2 separate regions of the Homo sapiens genome follow, and region 2 is linked to region 1. The links come from fine-mapping of genetic effects on gene expression. A gene starts in region 1. The other region holds a variant in brackets. All regions are shown on one strand. Distances are from middle to middle. Region 1 holds the start of PSMC4 (proteasome 26S subunit, ATPase 4). Region 2 has its middle 6.9 kb from the start of FCGBP.

Region 1 (2,907 bases):
GGGCATGGAGAAATTCCTTTTTCAGGTTCTTTTGCTCATCTTTGATGTATTCCTCCTGCACCTCCAGGAACTCCAGCTCTTGCTGCAGCTTCTGCGAGCAGAGAGGGGACAGAAGGGGATGGCTCCAGACTTGCTGATCCAGAGAGTGGTGGAAAGTGGGGAAGAGTATGAGATGTCAGGTCCTGTGCAAGGTCTGGGTTGGGGGTCGAATGTACCTTGTAGCGGCTGTACAGGTCCTCCAGGTCCTCAGGCTCAGGGCCCAGGAAGGACAGGCCGGTCTGGGGCCGGGACACGGACAGTGCTGGGATCTCATCCTAGACGAAAGGGGATAACTCACATTGGAAGAAGACAGTCCTCTCATGAAAGCTTCCCAACTTCACTAATGTTTGTTCCCCTCCCCACTTCACCCTGATGTCACTTAGCCCCTAACAGACCCCTGATATCTTAAGACCCTCTAAATAGATCCTGGAAACCTTTTGGCCACCTAAACAAGCTCTTTATGTCAACTTGCCCCTCAAACAGATCTTATGTTATCATATACCACTCATAACATGTCCCCAGTGTCACACAACCCCCAACTAGGATCTAAACGTCACATCAACTCCTTATCAGACCCAAATGCCACCCAATCCCCTTCAAGAGGTTCCTAATGTCACATGGCTCTCCTAGATAGGCTGTTAAAGTGACTGCGCCTTCAACGAGTCCCAACATTCCCCAGTTTCCCCTCAAAGATCCCTTATGTCACAGTCTCCTAACTCACCTTAGACCTAAATATCACTCAGGCAAGCCACAGATAATACTTAACTACCCGCCCCATTACCCCCATCAGCAAAGCCCTGAACATCAGTCAGCCCCGCAGCCCAGACCCGGGGATCACTCGGCCGCACGGCGGGATCCCATATATCACTCACCGCCTGACCCAATCCCAACGCCGGGCCACCGACCTCACTAAGCACTACCGGCCAGGGTTCGAAATCAATCCGTCTCAAAGACCCACTAACGTCACTCACTCCCCCAGCCCCGCTTTCTGAGCCTTACCTCCTACCATCACTCGGCCACCCAGACAGGCCTTCGAATGGCACAAAGCTCTCCACCGAGGCCTCTAAAATAACCCCAACCTGGGCCGGGGTCCTGGAAGCCATTCCTCCCCCCACTCAGGTCTGGCTTCACCCTCTCCCCGCGAGCCCGGCCCGGACTAAAAAGCCCAAGTCCCCACTGTACCTGAGCCTTCTCCACCAAGATGCCTATCTCCTCCATAGTGACCAAGCCGGCCTCTGTGTGGCCTGGGATGATCTGTCACCGCTTCCGCTGACGACAACGGAAGTCCCTGGCTGAGGAGGCTTCTGGGAAGTGTAGTTTAAGTTACGGCTGAGAGGTGCTGGAAGGGCAGGATAGGACGAAGGGCTGGTCTGGGCTCCGCCCTCAACATAAGCTCATGCGCTGTCCGTACCCGCAGGCGCGAGGGCGGGACGGGAGCTGTGGGCGTGCGCAGTATCACGCGGTGGCGCCATCTCGCCCTGCCGTGGAGGGCTGGGGGTTCTCTCCGGGAGGTGGCGCAGCCCCGTTGCTCTTTCAACGGAGTAAGTTCGCAGAGCTCTGGCACGGACAGTCTGGCGGCCAACTGCTCTTCGCTTTCTAGTGTCTGGGCTGGAGGGTCCTTGAGCTGGGTTCCACAGAAGGGATTGATCGTACGGGCGGGTAAGGTCTCCACGTGGCGCTGATCCAAAGATTGTGCGCCGCGCGGGCGTGGGAAGATCCGAGCTGCCCCTGAAGGTGACATTTCATACTGGGCTTTACCCCGGGATTGAGGAGCCCCGAGCCCGCAGTGAGCAACCAATCGAGTAGAACCCACGCGTCTGGGCTGGGGAAAAGGAGGCAGCGAGTGCCCAGAAGTTGGGTAGCACAGGAGATCCATAGACCTTAGTTCTGTATCCCAGGTTTCCGCCTTACAGATCTATGCCAGGTCCTGCGCTTAAGCTTTACAGGCATCATCGTCGCAAGTATTATGTTTCCTCATTTATAGAGAAGGAGACAAGCTCAGAGCCACGAAGCCACCAGCCACAGTCAACAATGTGCCGAAGGGACAAAGCATAGATTGGGACCCAGGTCTGTCTGTCCCCAAAGCCTGTACTCTTGGCCCCAGGGAAACACTGCTACCCTTCACACCAGCTACAATTTTTGTTAAGTAAACCTTTTATTGAAGTTAAATAAAGAGAAGAGCACAAATCATTACAGCTCGACAAAATTACACAAAGTGAACATGCCCATACAACCTGAATCCAGATCGCAAAACCAAACAGTAGAAGCCTCATGTGCTCCCCTTTCCCCCATCCCTTCTTCTCCCCCCTCCACTCCCCGCCCCGAGACGGAGTCTCACTCTGTTGCCCAGGCTAATATTTGTATTTTTAGTAGAGACAGGGTTTCACCATGTTGGCCAGGCCGGTCACAAACTCCTGACCTCAAGTGATCTGCCTGCCTTGGCCTCCCAAAGTGCTGGGATTATAGGCGTGAGCCACCACATCCGGCCTCCCGATCCCTTCTAAAGGTTATCATTCATCTGTTTTTTTCTTTTTTTTTTAAGAGCTAGAGTCTCTGTCGCCCAGGCTGGAGTGCAGTGGCACGATCATAGCTCACTAGAGTCTCCAACTGCTGGCCTCAAGCTATCCTCTCTCCTCAGCCTCTGAAAGCACTGGGATTACAGGCATGACCCACCCCATGTAGCCTTTAAAAATATATCTTTTGAAAGAGATTCTTGCTCTGTTGCCCAGGCTGGAGTGCAGTGGTGAGATCACTACTCACTCCAGGTTCAACCTCCCAGACTCAAGCAATCCTATACCTCAGCTTCCCAAGCACCTGGAACTACAGGCGTGTGCCACCACGCCTTGCTAATTTTAAAATGTTTTTTGT
Region 2 (2,907 bases), 29 kb after region 1:
AAGATGATGAACTAAATGTTGAAGACAAGTTTGAGATCTGTAAAATGTGATTTTTTACTTCCACTTATAATACTTGTGATTGGGGAGGTTTGTGGAAATTCAATTATGATGAAAAACCTCTATCTTTTTTGTAATGTTGGCATACTTGGGGGATTTAGTGGCAAATACATTCCCCAGCAGGCCTTTTGTTGGTTGCACTAACTGCAAGGTTGCTGGGAAGTAGAGTCCATTTGGTTGATGAGCTTTGACTGCGGTTTTGGAACCTTACCTCTCCTCCTTAGCCCAATATGCTGTCTCGGGTCCTATTCAAATAAAGTTATTTCTCCTGGTCTAAAAAAAAAAAAAAAAAAAAAAAGAATAAGGAGAATGAAATCTCTTGGCTGGGAGTGAGACAGCTGGCTGGCTTCCTATTTTGAGGTGGTTTAGTGAAAAAGAACAAAAGCCCCTTACTCAAGCTGTAGCTTGTCTGCAGCAGGATAATTAAGGAATCAGAGAGACCGTGGGGTTGAGGAGGAATTATTTAATTATTCAGGTGCACCGACCCAGTCAGATTAACATCCAAAGGACTGAGCCCTGAACAAAGAGTCAAGCTACCTTTTAAGCATTTCGTGGGGCTGGGGGAGATCTGTGCAGGGGGAAGCATATCACAGAAGTGAGAAACAAAGACAGTCATTCAATTGAGACATGCATTATATCATTTTTTTTTCAAGGAACAGCATGTTTTACGACTTGAGATTATCTGTCTAGTGATCTTACAGCTGCACAGCTAGAGAAACAGAGTCTTCACAATGCCTGGGAAAGGGAGAGATAAGGCTCACTAGCCATAGAAAAACAGGCAGTTAATTTTAAAGGACTCCAGCTCTTTCTCTTCCTCAGGGGGAATTGGGTTTTCTTACATACAACTAAGTTTTGCTTACACATTCTTTATTTCTTTTAATTCCTGTTCTATACCTAACCTCCAGCCAGTCAGCATCAGAGGCCCAAGAAGCTATTAACCACAAGTTCCTGCTTTAGGGGCTTAGGGACTTCCCCAGGAAGCCACAGGAACAGCTTAGGTTTCAACTTACAGTGATAATTTCCTTATTTCAATGCTAAAAATCATGCTCAGAGGTAGAGATTTAAAATGCCAATATTACATGCAATGTATGAAAAACCATGTTGAACCATTGTGCAGGCGCCAAGAAATCCCTTGTTAACACATGATGACAGGCACATCATGGCATCTGGACCCCTACAAGACAGATCGACTTGCTCCCTGTGGGGAGCAGCCTACCCTTTTCCTTTCACGGTGCTGACCTCCCTTCTGCACAAACGGAAACAAACTTTTTTTTTTTTTTCTCTTTAATACTGTGTCTGGTAATCTCACTTGATTTCTATCTTAGGAGACTACAACAAGCCAGGATGATGGTAACATCTCTGTCAAGATGACATAGATTTATTTTTCCTGGCTCCTCTCTGCTAAAAACCCTGGAATAACATAACAGACATTCTTAAGAGGACTCTGAAAGATAAAAAGAAGGAAAACTGACAAGGGCCTTAGAACTCGAGAAACATCTCAGTGGCCCAGCATCTCTCAATTTCCCACCCAACGACAGGACGTGGTCTAGATCCAGCATCTCCCCAGCCCCCTATCCAGC[G/A]GCAGAAAGCACCCAGGTAGGTGCTTTCCCCACCCTAGTGGATGGCAGAGATGAAGGAAGAGCCCTGCTGGCACCACGCAGCCCAGGGAAGTACTCTCCACCCTTTTGTGCCAGTGTCTCCTACTCCTAACGTAGCAGCACCAAGCAGGCCCCAAGAAAATGCTTTTAACCTCCATTGGTGGTACTAACAGGAATTGGGTATGAGCTCAACCAGCACCAGGCAAATGAAATAGACCGGAATAATAATGCAAGGGCTCTGAAAACTAAATTGTCATTGGAATCATAGCACACAAAAGTAGGCCAGGACCTGCATGCTAACCTAAAAACAGTGACTGCTAAAATGGAAGAGTTAAATAGGATCCAGGGTCTCCTCTCATAATACCAGAAATGTCCAGGATATAATTTAAAAATCATACATAATATGAACAACCAGAAAAATCACAACTTGAATGAGAAAAGCCAATCAACAATCTAACACTGAGATGAAAGATTTTAGAATTATCTGACAAAGATCTAAAGTAGCCATCATAAAAATGTTTCACCAAGCAAGTAGAAATTCCTTGCAAAGATGGGAAAGAAAAGAAAATCTCACCAAAGAAATGGAAAGTATGTTCTTAAAGAATCAAATGAAAATGATAAAACTGAAAAATACAATAACTAAAATAAAAACTCACTGGAAAGGCTCAAGAGCAGAGCAACTATGACAAAGGAAATAAGAAGTGAACTTGAAGATAGAACAATAAAAATTACCCAATCCAAAAAACAGAGAGACAATCAACTTTAAAAAAGAGAAACAGAAAATGACTAACAAGGGCTCAGAGAACCTGCAGGACAATTATAAAATAGCTAACATTTGTATTATCAGATTAACAGAAGGAGAAAAGAAAGTGGGGCTGAAAAATATTTGAAGAATAATGACCAAACCTTCCCAAATTTGGCAAAAGACATAAACCTACAGATGCAAGAAGCTAAACAGAATAAATCTGACGGATTCCATGCCAAAACACAGTATAACTAACTTATGAAAACAAAGGCAAACAATGAAACTATCTTGGAAGCAGCTAGAGAGGAATTATAAATTGTCTATAGGGAACACTGATCAAATGACAAAAAATTTCTTATCAAAAACCATGGAGAAGAAAGCCTGGAGCAATACTCTTCAAGTGCTGAAAGAAAATAACTATCTGCTGAGAATCTTTTTTTTTTTTTTTTTGAGACAGTCTCGCTCTGTCCTCCAGGCTGGAATGCAGTGGTGTGCTTTTGGCTCACT

The links. PIP is the estimated chance that this variant, and not a neighbour inherited with it, causes the effect. A credible set is the group of variants that fine-mapping cannot tell apart.
Region 2: its variant is the best candidate, but not a certain one, in a credible set for the expression of PSMC4 in whole blood (TOPMed, PIP 0.59).

What each region holds. Positions count from the first base shown.
Region 1 is chr19:39,969,553-39,972,459 of GRCh38, reverse strand. PSMC4 (proteasome 26S subunit, ATPase 4) reads right to left here and starts at 1,295. Exons shown (of 11, transcript NM_006503.4): 1 at 1,222-1,295; 2 at 216-314; 3 at 1-91. The coding sequence starts at 1,257. It overlaps LOC124904720 (a long non-coding RNA gene), which reads left to right and starts at 1,489. Exons shown (of 3, transcript XR_007067260.1): 1 at 1,489-1,580; 2 at 2,024-2,106. RefSeq lists enhancers at 332-1,011, 1,036-1,425, 1,926-1,975.
Region 2 is chr19:39,940,081-39,942,987 of GRCh38, reverse strand. It overlaps the pseudogene PRR13P5. Among named protein-coding and RNA genes, the nearest start is that of FCGBP, 6.9 kb to the right of the region's middle. RefSeq lists enhancers at 1,050-1,139, 1,240-1,319. The variant G/A (reference allele first, on the strand shown) is at 1,638.